Linked DNA regions of Homo sapiens. The protein of the gene in region 1 interacts with the protein of each later gene in a pairwise test. Each region holds a gene or a part of one and is shown in the gene's direction. Other genes may lie near its edges. The genes, in order: UNKL, CPSF7 and EXOSC7.

The links.
Region 2: the proteins of UNKL (region 1) and CPSF7 interact in a two-hybrid assay, tested with the Homo sapiens proteins (one large-scale study listed by BioGRID).
Region 3: the proteins of UNKL (region 1) and EXOSC7 interact in a two-hybrid assay, tested with the Homo sapiens proteins (one large-scale study listed by BioGRID).

The regions. Positions count from the first base shown.
Region 1 is NC_000016.10:1,397,695-1,401,343, reverse strand, and holds part of UNKL (putative E3 ubiquitin-protein ligase UNKL), read left to right. Parts: intron 1-1,834; coding exon 1,835-1,970; intron 1,971-2,402; coding exon of another isoform or gene 2,403-2,502; exon of another isoform or gene 2,503-3,043; intron 3,044-3,204; coding exon of another isoform or gene 3,205-3,264; intron 3,265-3,649. UniProt on the Homo sapiens protein: May participate in a protein complex showing an E3 ligase activity regulated by RAC1. Ubiquitination is directed towards itself and possibly other substrates, such as SMARCD2/BAF60b. Intrinsic E3 ligase activity has not been proven.
Region 2 is NC_000011.10:61,405,937-61,409,585, reverse strand, and holds part of CPSF7 (cleavage and polyadenylation specificity factor subunit 7), read left to right. Parts: intron 1-3,649.
Region 3 is NC_000003.12:45,003,595-45,007,243, forward strand, and holds part of EXOSC7 (exosome complex component RRP42), read left to right. Parts: intron 1-1,696; coding exon 1,697-1,820; intron 1,821-3,649. UniProt on the Homo sapiens protein: Non-catalytic component of the RNA exosome complex which has 3'->5' exoribonuclease activity and participates in a multitude of cellular RNA processing and degradation events.

The DNA.
Region 1 (3,649 bases):
GGCAACTGGCATCTCAGTGGGGCCAGCCATTGACCAAGTGGCCGAGGAGGTAGCACAACTCCCACCGGAACTCGTGAGGCGTCCTGTCCCAGAGCCGGGGCGCCCACCAGGCACCCACCAGGATGCTCAGCAGAGCCCCCAGCCCACCAGGCACCCACCAGGATGCCCAGCAGAGCCCCCAGCCCTGCGCCTCTCTGGGGTGGTGCTCTAGACAGCAGCTTTCAAATCCCTGAGCTTGGCCAGAAACATATGGACCAGGGGGCTGTCCCTCGGGGCTGGGGGACCTGCATTCCTGGCTGGCACACAGATGAGGTTATATGCAGGGGAGATTTTGATTTGAAAAAAAACGTGGTAAGGCTGGGAGCACTGGCTCACGCCTGTAATCTCAGCACTTTGGGAGGCCGAGGCGGGCAGATCACTTGAGGTCAGGAGTTTGAGGCCAGCCTGGCCAACATGGTGAAACCATGTCTCTGCTAAAAATACAAAAAATTAGCCGGTTGTGGTGGTGGGCGCCTGTAATCCCAGCTACTTGGGAGGCTGAGGCTGGAGAATCTCTTGAACTCGGGGGGTGAAGGTTGCAGTGAGCCAAGATCACGCCACTGCACTCCAGTGTGGGTGACAGAGTGAGACTCCGTTTCAAAAAAAAAAATGTAAAATACACACAACATAAAATGCACCATTTTTAAGTGTACAGTCCAGTGGCATTTAGCACGTCTGCAGTGTTGTGCAGCTGCCACCTCTCTCTAGTTCCAGAACATTCCATCCCTGCAGAAGGAACCCCCCTGCTTATGAGCAGTTCCTCCCCATCCCCTCCCTGGTCCCTGCACTCACTGGCCTGCATCCCATCTCTGTGAATTTGTGTATTCTGGACATTGCGTATGGCAGCGATTTTTTTTTTTTTTTTTTTTTTTTTTTTTTTTTTTTTTGAGATGGAGTCTCGCTCTGTCACCCAGGCTGGAGTGCAGTGGCACAATCTCAGCTCACTGCAACCTCCGCCTGCCAGGTTCAAGCAATTCTCCTGCCTCAGCCTCCTGAGTAGCTGGGATTACAGGCAGGCACCAGTATGCCCGGCTAATTTTTTATTTTTAGTAGAGACGGGGTTTCACTGTGTTGGCCAGGCAAGTCTTGAACTCCTGACCTTGTGATCCACCCACCTCGGCCTCCCAAAGTGCTGGGATAACAGGCGTGAGCCACCACGTCCGGCCCAGTGAATGACTTCTAAAAATAGGCTTTATTTTTTAGAGCGGTTTCCGGTTCACAGCAAAACTGAGTAGAAAAATAGATTTCCCAAACACCCCCTGCCCCCTCAGCCTCCCCTGCCGTGCACCTCCTGCACTGCGAGGTACGCTCTTTACCAACAGTGAACCCACACTGATGTGTGCTTGTCACCCAGAGGCTGTGGTGCGCATGAGGCTCACCATGCGGCATTTCGGGGTGTGCATGTCTCTGGATTTTAGCATATTCTCAAAAGCTGTGCACACATCACCTCTCTCTAGTTGGAGAACATTTTCATCCCCCAGCAAGGAAGCCGCACACCCACAGCAGGACTCCCTCCCAGCCCTGGTGGTCTCGGCTCCACTCCGTCTCTGTGGGTTCCCTAGTTCTGGGCATTTTCACATAAACAGAATCACACCACGTGGCCTTCTGGCCCGGCTTCCCTCATGGAGCGCGAGTCCTTTGACATCAGCGTGTGCCGTGGCGTGTGTCTGCGCTCCCCAAGTCCTCCTGCAGCCCCTTCCATTTGGGGGACAGCCAGGTCCTTCCACCTTTGGTCTCCTCTGCCCAGCATTGCTTCCAGTCGCGCTGCTCAGGCACCGTGTGGCCCATTTTTCAGATGCCAACTTCGTGCTGGGCAGCTACAAGACGGAGCAGTGCCCGAAGCCGCCACGCCTGTGCCGCCAGGGCTATGCGTGCCCACACTACCACAATAGCCGGGACAGGCGGCGCAACCCCCGGCGGTTCCAGTACAGGTGAGCCTGCGGGACCGTGCTCAGAGGACTCCGGCTGGTGGGCGTCCTTCCCGGCCCGTGGCTCGCGTTGCCCACCCCGGGGTTCTAATGGGAGGGCTGCCCTTGTGGCACCATCATCCCCGGGAGGGGAGGGCATCTCCAAGCACAGTGGCTGTGGGAGGTGCCATGGAGGCCCACGCGTCTGTCCTGGGGATGGGCCTCCCCACCTACGCTCAGTGTCTCCCATGCAGTCCCCTACCGGGGCCCCTCTGCCAGGCAAGGGGACGGAGCACTGCAGGAGGGACCCCAAGCCCAGCTGGGACCCCCGTGTGCCCCACCCGTGCCTCTGGTTGCAGCCACGCTCTCCAGCCTGTGGGCTGCATGCTGTCTCCTCACCCAAGCTGCCAGGGGCTCAGGCACTGTCGTCACCTGGGCTCAATCTTGTCTTCACAGCTGGCAGCTGGGACGCCGGGTCCTTAGGCTGAGTCCCAGGGCCAACAACCCAAGGGTCGCCCTGCCCAGGGTGCACACAGGACCTTCCTCCACCGCCTGAGCCCCAGCTGTCCCCTGGGTCTGGCTTGTGGGTTTGGCACCTCGCAGCCTGCTTGCCTCTGAAGCCCCTTTCTCCTCCTTGCTCCAGCCCGGCCTTCTGGTTGTGCCTGGCCTGGCTTGCCTCCTGTCTGCAGTTTGCACCTGAGAGGGGGGTGGGGGGGTGCAGACCCCACAGGGTGTCTGGATGCCTGGGCCATGGCCTTGGCCTCCCTGAGGCCCTGTCTGTGTCCAGCTCTTCCTTTGAGCAGAGAGCCACCCTCGCCTCTTTTGAATGACCTGGTGCTGCCTCGCATGCCCCGGAGAGCACCTGTGCTTCCTTTGGGAAGGACGCCCCACTCCTTGTTGTTATGCCACGTTCAGTCTCCCTCTGAGCAGCTTCCGAGTAAAGGACCTGAACGGCTGTAGAACAAACCACAAATTAGTGTCTGAGATTTTGTCATCGCCCGTCATGGAAAGAAAATAAAAATTATTTTTTCAACAGGCACTTAATGTGTCCCATAAATACAAATCAGTTACAATAAAGCAGCTAGAGATTCCACGAAGAGTAGAGGATTTTGTTTTTTTATGAGACAGAGTCTCACTCTGTGGCCCAGGCTGGAGTGCGGTGGTGCAGTCTCAGCTCACTGCAGTAGGAACATAGGTAATTTGAAATTGGTGCGGAGTTTTAAATTGTGGGATCAAAACTCTCGCTTCCATTTTATAGAAAGTTGGCGAGGAGACAGCCCCGTGCTGTCTGGGCGCCCGGCCTCACTGTCCCCAGGAGGTTCGGCTGCTTCTCCCCTGCGTTCTCCACGTCCGTGAGGGTGGCTCTGACTGAGACTCAAGTTAAATTCTGTGAAGAACAGCCCCGGGGCTCCTGACCCCATCCTGGCACTGGCCGGGCCTGCGTGTCCGTGAGCGCAGAGCTGCGTTGCCTGTCACTCCAGGGCCCCATGCCCGAGGCCCCTCCTGGTGGGAGGCAGACACCCCTGGGCACACGAGGAACCATGTTTTCCTGTGTCCCCCTGACACCTCCTCATCCCCAGGTCCACGCCCTGCCCCAGCGTGAAGCACGGGGGTCGGGGTGGGGGAGCCAAGTCCTCTGTGTCCCCCTGACACCTCCTCATCCCCAGGTCCATGCCCTGCCCCAGCGTGAAGCACGGGGGTCG
Region 2 (3,649 bases), on another chromosome or scaffold:
GGTTTAGAGGCTTTGTGGTGGATAATTAACTTCAACGGAAGGGTTTTTTGCTTTTGGAAAAGACTTAGTGACAAGGTTGTTTATTTTGTTGTTGTGTTTTTTGTTTTGTTTTGTTTTGAGACAGAGTCTCACTCTTGCCCAGGCTGGAGTGCAGTGGCGCAATCTCGGCTCACTGCAAACTCCACCTCCCGGGTTCAAGCAATTCTCTGCCTCAGCCTCCCGAGTAGCTGGGATTACAAGCGCCCACCACCACGCCCGGCTAATTTTTGTATTTTCAGTAGAGACGGGGTTTCATCATCTCGGCCAGGCTGGTCTTGAACTCCTGACCTCGTGATCCACCTGACTCGGCCTCCCAAAGTGCTGGGATTACAGGCGTGAGCCACCGCACCCGGCTGTTTTTTTGTTTTGTTTTGTTTTGTTTTTGTTTTTGTTTTTTTAATAGACACATTGTCTCACTCTGTCACCCAGGCTGGAGTGCACTGTCATGAGGCACCATCATGGCTCTGTAACATCAACCTCCTGGGCTCAGGTGATCCTCCTGCCTCAGCCTCCTGAGGGCTAATTTTTAAATTTTTTGTAGAGTCTTGCTTTGTTGCCCAGGCTGGTCTTGAACTCCTGGCCTCAAGTGATCCCCCTGCCTCAGCCTCCCAATGTGCTGTGGGATTATGGGCATGAAGCCACTGCGACTGGCTGTAATTTTCTTTTGAAGCAAAATGAAAGCAGGAAGGTTGGGATAAAAACTCTTAAGTAATGGAGAAGTTCAGTTAAGATTGGTTGGATCCAGGGGCTCTGGCTGTGTCATCCAGACTTTATCTGCATCTCTCAGCTCTGCTTTTCTCTGTTGCTTTCATTCTTAGACAGGCTCCATATTGGTAGGGAGTCAGAGGGGGTGCTGTGTCTTTAGGTTGCATCCTACCAGCTTAGCAATCCCAACTGAAGGAAAACTTCTGGAAAGATTGTTTCTATTATATAAGCATATAGGAGCAGGTGTTGTCTCTGCTTCTATGGAAATCTTTAAAATAGGCCAGAGTGGCTAGGGGTCTGTCTGTAGTTCTTGGAGGCTACTGCGTGACCCAGGTAACTTCAGGGTCCTTTCTTAATTTTGTGGTTGCAGATTTATAAGTCTCTAGGACTTCCCATTTCTCTGTCTCACATCAAGTACATTAGGAAGATGTCCTTGGCCGAGCACGGTGGCTCACACCTGAAATCCCAGCACTTTGGGAGGCCAAGGTGGGTGGATCACGAGGTCAGGAGATTGAGACCGTCCTGGCTAACATGGTGAAACCCCGTCTCTATCCCGACCGAGACCATCCTGGCTAACACGGTGAAACCCCATCTCTACTAAAAATACACACAAAAAAATTAGCCGGGCATGGTGGCAGGTGCCTGTAGTCCCAGCTACTCAGGAGGCTGAGGCAGGAGAATGGCATGAACCCGGGAGGCAGAGCTTGCAGTGAGCCGAGATCGCGCCACTGTACTCCAGCCTGGGCGACAGAGTGAGACTCTGTCTCAAAAAAAAAAAAAAAAAGATGTCCTTGATTATTTGCCTGCTTGATCTAAAGTAATGGTAATTGAAAAGGAAGGTGAGGGGAAAGAATAGTAGTTCTTTTTGGTGTCTTTGGGATGGCGATATCTGGATGAAGAAGGACAAAGAAACTCACCACCTGTGAGCCCCTATAGTTCATGAGCAGTAGCTGGAATGTAAATAGTTGGAAAATTAGCAGTATTTTGCCCAGTGACAACCTACTAAAAACCAAAATACTCCTTTTAGGTTTGGCTACTGCCCTCTGTCTTGTTCTTTGGCCATTAGCTTAAATAGATTTATAGCCAGGAATTGTTTTTATCTTCTCCCAAACAAGTAAGTGGAAAGATGAAAAATTACTAATATTTTTTGTCTCTGTTCTCTGTTGTTAGCCACTCATTTATTCCACAAAATCCTAGAGTGCTTAACATCATTGAAATCTAGGTTAACTCATGTAGAATCAACAGTTAGGCTGTGGGCTCCAGGTACTTCTTTCTAGATTTTGCAACAGGTTGAGTTTGGGGAGATGCCCATGTATCCTCTGGAAAAGCAGACGCTATTGTAGATGGAGACCACAAACAACTTTGGCCTAATTCAGTCTCAGGTGGGCATGAGGGCAGGCATTAGAGTTGGTCTTGGTCCAGTCCTAACTCCCTTTTCTTGTTTGAGTCTGCACAGTTGCTAGTGTTACTTGTGGGTTGAAAAGCACATGTAGGCTACAGTGTATGTCTTTTGGAGCTGACTGGGATAAGAGTGAACAGGAAGGTGATGATTGACCTGTGCAGAGCATGCACTGTCGTCTTTGGGGCTGCATTCAGTTTAGTAGTTAGAACATAAATGCATGTCACCATTCCTGATGGCTTTGCTCCTGACAGCCTTATGACAGGGAAATTACCAGCGAGATCCACTGATCCAGCAGTAGTTTGAGAATTAAACATCTCAACCTGAGTCTTTAGCTGTCACTTTGCATTATTTCTTCCACTTATAAAATGGGGCCAGGCACAGTGGCTCATGCCTGTAACTTCAACACTTTGGGAGGCCGAGAGGGGCAGATCGCTTGAGCTCAGGGACCAGCCTGAGGAACATGGCAAAACACTCGTCTCTACCAGAGATACAAAACTAGCTGGGCATGGTGATGTGCTCCTGTAGTCCCAGCTACTTGGGGGTGCTGAGGCAGGAGGAGTCCCAGCTACTTGGGGGCACTTAGGTGGGAGGATCACTTGAGCCCGGGAGATAGAGGCTGCAGTGAGCCATGTTTGTGCCACTGCACTCCAGCCTGGGCAATAGAGCAAGACCCTGTCTCAAAAAAAATAGTAATAAAAATAAAATAAGATGAGACTATTTCTCCCATTATGAGGATAACTCTCTTTTGGTAACTTTGAAAATGCTGTAACAATATTGCCTAGAAAACAGTCATTTGACTTGTGTAGGCCCATGACAAGATGGGAAAAATTAACTCTGAGGCAGGTTTTCTACTTCCTCACTTTTCCTGGTCACCCGTTTGATATAGTGGTTATTGCATCTGAATAATAGTCTGAAAGAACTGAATCAGGCACCCCAAGAATGTCAATTTCTTACATTCTCACCCTAAGGACTCTTAATTCCATCTGTAGTGACCAAGTTATGGCTTAGGAAGTTTCATGTTGGGAAGATGGTACATGGTCCTCATTTATAGCAACCTTTTAGTTAGAAATGAATCATATTTATATTCTATGATGACAGCTGTTCCCTGAGAGTGAAAGGTACATTTTGTCCAGAGGCAGCAATAGAACAGTAGCCTTCTTTGTCCATCTTTTCTCGGCGTAAGACCCAGTTCTGGGGCCTGAAGGCTAATTGGCCCACTTGAAGGAATCTCTGATTTCTGCCTGCATTCCAACATTGGCACCAAAATGTAGCCATGGAGATTTAAGAATTCAGTGCTATGGCTTGCTTCTCTTGGTGTACAAGTTATCCTCTGCAACCTGTGTCTTCAACTTTTTGTAGTTCTCAACTATGTCAGTTATCTCATTATTTTAGGACATTATCCTACTTGAAATATAGTCATTCTCACGTCATTCCTGTCCTCGTTATCCATTGAAAACTGAGCTTTCTCTTCAATTTGGATCGAATTCAAAGATTCAGAAGCCC
Region 3 (3,649 bases), on another chromosome or scaffold:
TGTTTCCATTACAGTAGCTGGATGGACCACCTCTTCCTTCCTGGCTCCTCCAACCCAGCCTGGAGTGAATTGACTTTATAGGTTAAATGTGTTTTTCAGTACCCAGCTGAAGAAACAGAATGTTGCCAGCACCCCAGAAGCATCCCACACCTTCTGTACCCCCATGCAATTACACTCACTGATGATAACCAGCATCTTAAAAGAATAGATTACTTTTGTACTTGATATAAATGGTATCATATACTATGTTCTGTTTTGTGTCTGCCTCATTCACTAAGCATTGTGTTTTGAGAGATCTGTGTTGCTGCCTTAGTCATAGCTTGCTTTTTGCTGTATGGTGTTCCATTGTGTGACTTTGTCCAGTCTGCTGTTTATCCAGTCTACTGTCCAGTCTGCTGTTGTTTATCAGTCTACTGTTGATGGCCATCTGGTTCATTTCCAGTTTGAGGCTATTACAAATAGGGATGGGCATCATGAACATTTTGTGCATGTCTTTGGTGCACATATTTCTCTATTTCTGTTAGGGAGGAGTGTTCTGGGTTATAGGGTATGGCTATCTTTAGTTACGGTAGATGCTGCCAGTTTCACAAAGTGTTTTACCAGTTAACACTTCCACCAGCAGTGTATGTAAGAGTTCCGGGTTGTTTCACATTTTTGTCAACTCTTGCTTTTTTTTTTTGAGATGGAGTCTCACTCTGTCTCCCAGGCTGGACTGCAGTGGCGTGATCTCAGTTCACTGCAACCTCCACTTCCCAGGTTCAAGCGATTCTCTTACCTCAGCCTCCCAAGTAGCTGGGATTACAGGTGTGCACCACCACACCCAGCTAATTTTTGTATTTTTAGTAGAGATGGGGTTTCACCATCTTGGCCAGGCTGGTCTCGAACTCCTGACCTCAGGTGATCCTCCCGCCTTGGCCTCTGAAAGTACTGGGATTACAGGCATGAGCCACCATGCCTGGCGTTTTTTTTTTTTTGTTTTTTTTTTTAATAGTTATTTTGGTTGTGCCTTGGTATCACAGTGTAGTTTTAATTTGCATTTTTAATAGATATTTAAATTGAGCACCTTTTCTTGGTTTATTGGCTACTCAGACAGCCTCTTTTATGAAGACATCCAAATATATTCTACGTTTGAGTCTTTTGTCCATTTTTCTGTTGGGCTGTCTTTTTTTTGTTTAATAGGAATTCTTTATGTAATCTGTCAGGTAGTATTTTATCTCCCCAGATTATATTTTTAGTTTTTAAATGATGTCTTCTGATATACAGAAGTTCATGATGTTATAATTGAATATGTAACTTTTTTCTCTTTCTGTATCCTGTTCAAGAAATAGTTGTCTACTCCAAGGTCATGCAGATGTTTTTTTCTAAATGCTTTATTGTCTTGTCTTTTATTTTTTATATCTATGGTCTATTTGGTATGGCTTCGTGTGTGTGGTGTGAGGTAGGGATTGAGATTCTTTTTTTTCCATTGGGATATCTGATTGACCCAGCATCATTTTCTAAAAGATGCCTTTCCTCATTGCACTGCGGCGCCTCCTGTGTGCTTTTGACAGGGATGACAGGGATGAGGATGATAAAGAATAGGCATAGCGTGTCTTTCTCTTGTGAGACACAGGGATTCCAACTCCTATTCTCAATCTTAAAAAGAAGTTATTTTTCCTCCTCCAAGTGGGAATTTTACTAGTGCTTCTGCTTCCAGGATACCAAGGGTTCGAGTTTTGGAGGATGAAGAGGGGTCGAAGGACATTGAATTGTCAGATGACCCTTATGACTGCATACGACTAAGTGTGGAGAATGTCCCCTGCATTGTCACTCTGTGCAAGGTATAACTTGTATTTTATGGTTTTTGTCTTCCCTGTGGGTGTGGGTCTCCTCTAATCCCAACCTGCTGAGGTTACTTAATAAGTTAAGAAGTTGTAATACCACACACCATATAGAAGTAGCTTTTACCCAAATCCAATAATTTGGTTATACTAGAAACCACTACCACGAGTAGCTCTTTCTTTTCTTTTTAATTGGAAGATATGATGTGGTCCTGGGAGCCATGAGTGTGTTTGTAGTAATAGTAGCCAGAGTTTGTTAAGCTCCTTCCACATACCATGTGCTTCACTAAAGCACCATGTCTTTTAATTACCTCAACTCTATGGGGTCTAGGGTGGTTGAGTAGTGGCAGGGTGGCGAACACTGTCCCCCCTATGAAATGGGAGGTTGGAGCAGGTCTTGGGTATCATGAGTGGTTTTCACATAGAGGGCTGTGGAGCTGAACATCAGGCTGATGTGATATATAACTAATGCTGCCCCAGGCTGTGCAAAGAGGCCTGTATTGGCTATTGACTGGGATTGTAGCTAATTCCACTCAGGATTCATTATCTCAAAATAAAGCTAAACAGGTCAGGTTTAATTCCACTGAAATCACTTCATGAACAGGATGTGGTGAAGTGTTCAGACAACAGGATGGCAGGATGTTGGGTCTTGGCTTTTTTTTTTTTTTTTTTTTTTTTTTTTTGAGACAGTCTTGCTGCAACGCCCAGGCTGGAGTGCAATGGCGCGATCTCAGCTCACTGCAACCTCCGCCTCCCAGGTTCAAGCAATTCTTCTGCCTCAGCCTCCCAAATAGCTGGGATTACAGGCACGTGCCATCATGCCTGGCTAATTTTTGTATTTTTAGTAGAGACGGTGTTTCACCATGTTGGCCAGGCTGGTCTCAAACTCCTGACCTCGGGTGATCTGCCCACCTCAGCCTCCCAAAGTGCCGGGATTACAGGCATAAGCCACCGCACCTAGCCGGCTTGTTCTTTCTTGTTGTTTATTTGTTTTTTTTTTTTTTTTTTTTTTTGAGACAGAGTCTCGCTCTGTCGCCCAGGCCGGACTGCGGACTGCAGTGGTGCAATCTCGGCTCACTGTAAGCTCCGCTTCCTGGGTTCACGCCATTCTCCTGCCTCAGCCTCCCGAGTAGCTGGGACTACAGGCGCCCGCCACCGCGCCTGGCTAATTTTTTGTATTTTTAGTAGAGACGGGGTTTCACCTTGTTAGCCAGGATGGTCTCGATCTCCTGACCTCATGATCTGCCCGCCTCGGCCTCCCAAAGTGCTGGGATTACAGGCGTGAGCCACCGCGCCCGGCCTTGTTTTGAGACAGTGTTGCTCTGTTGCCCAGGCTGGAGTGCAGTAGCACAATCTAGGCTCACTGCAACCTCTGCTGCAACCCCCCCACCCGCCCCGGCTCAACCTCAAGCAACCCTTCCACCTCAGCCTCCCAAGTAGCTGGTACCACAGGCTCACACCACCATATCTGGCTATTTTTTTGTATTTTTGGTGGAGACAGGGTCTTGCCATGTTGCCTGGGCTGGTCTCAAACTCCTGAGCTCAAGCATTCCATTTTCCTCAGCTTCCCAAAGTGCTGGGAGGCATGAGCCGCTGCGCCCAGCCTTTGGCTTGTTCTTGAGTGTGTCCCTTAGCATGGACCCTCTTGATTCCCCCTTGCCATCAGTGAAACGTCCATGTGGCCTTGTGTGTGAATTTCTCCCTTGTGCCCCTCTGTTGGAAAGCCTTGGTGGCCTTTGTCTTGGTTGGTCTCTGAATTCTAGTTTTAAACCACCTTGCCCTGTTTTTCCATATCGTGTTTTTATTGTACCACCCACACAGTGGCCTGT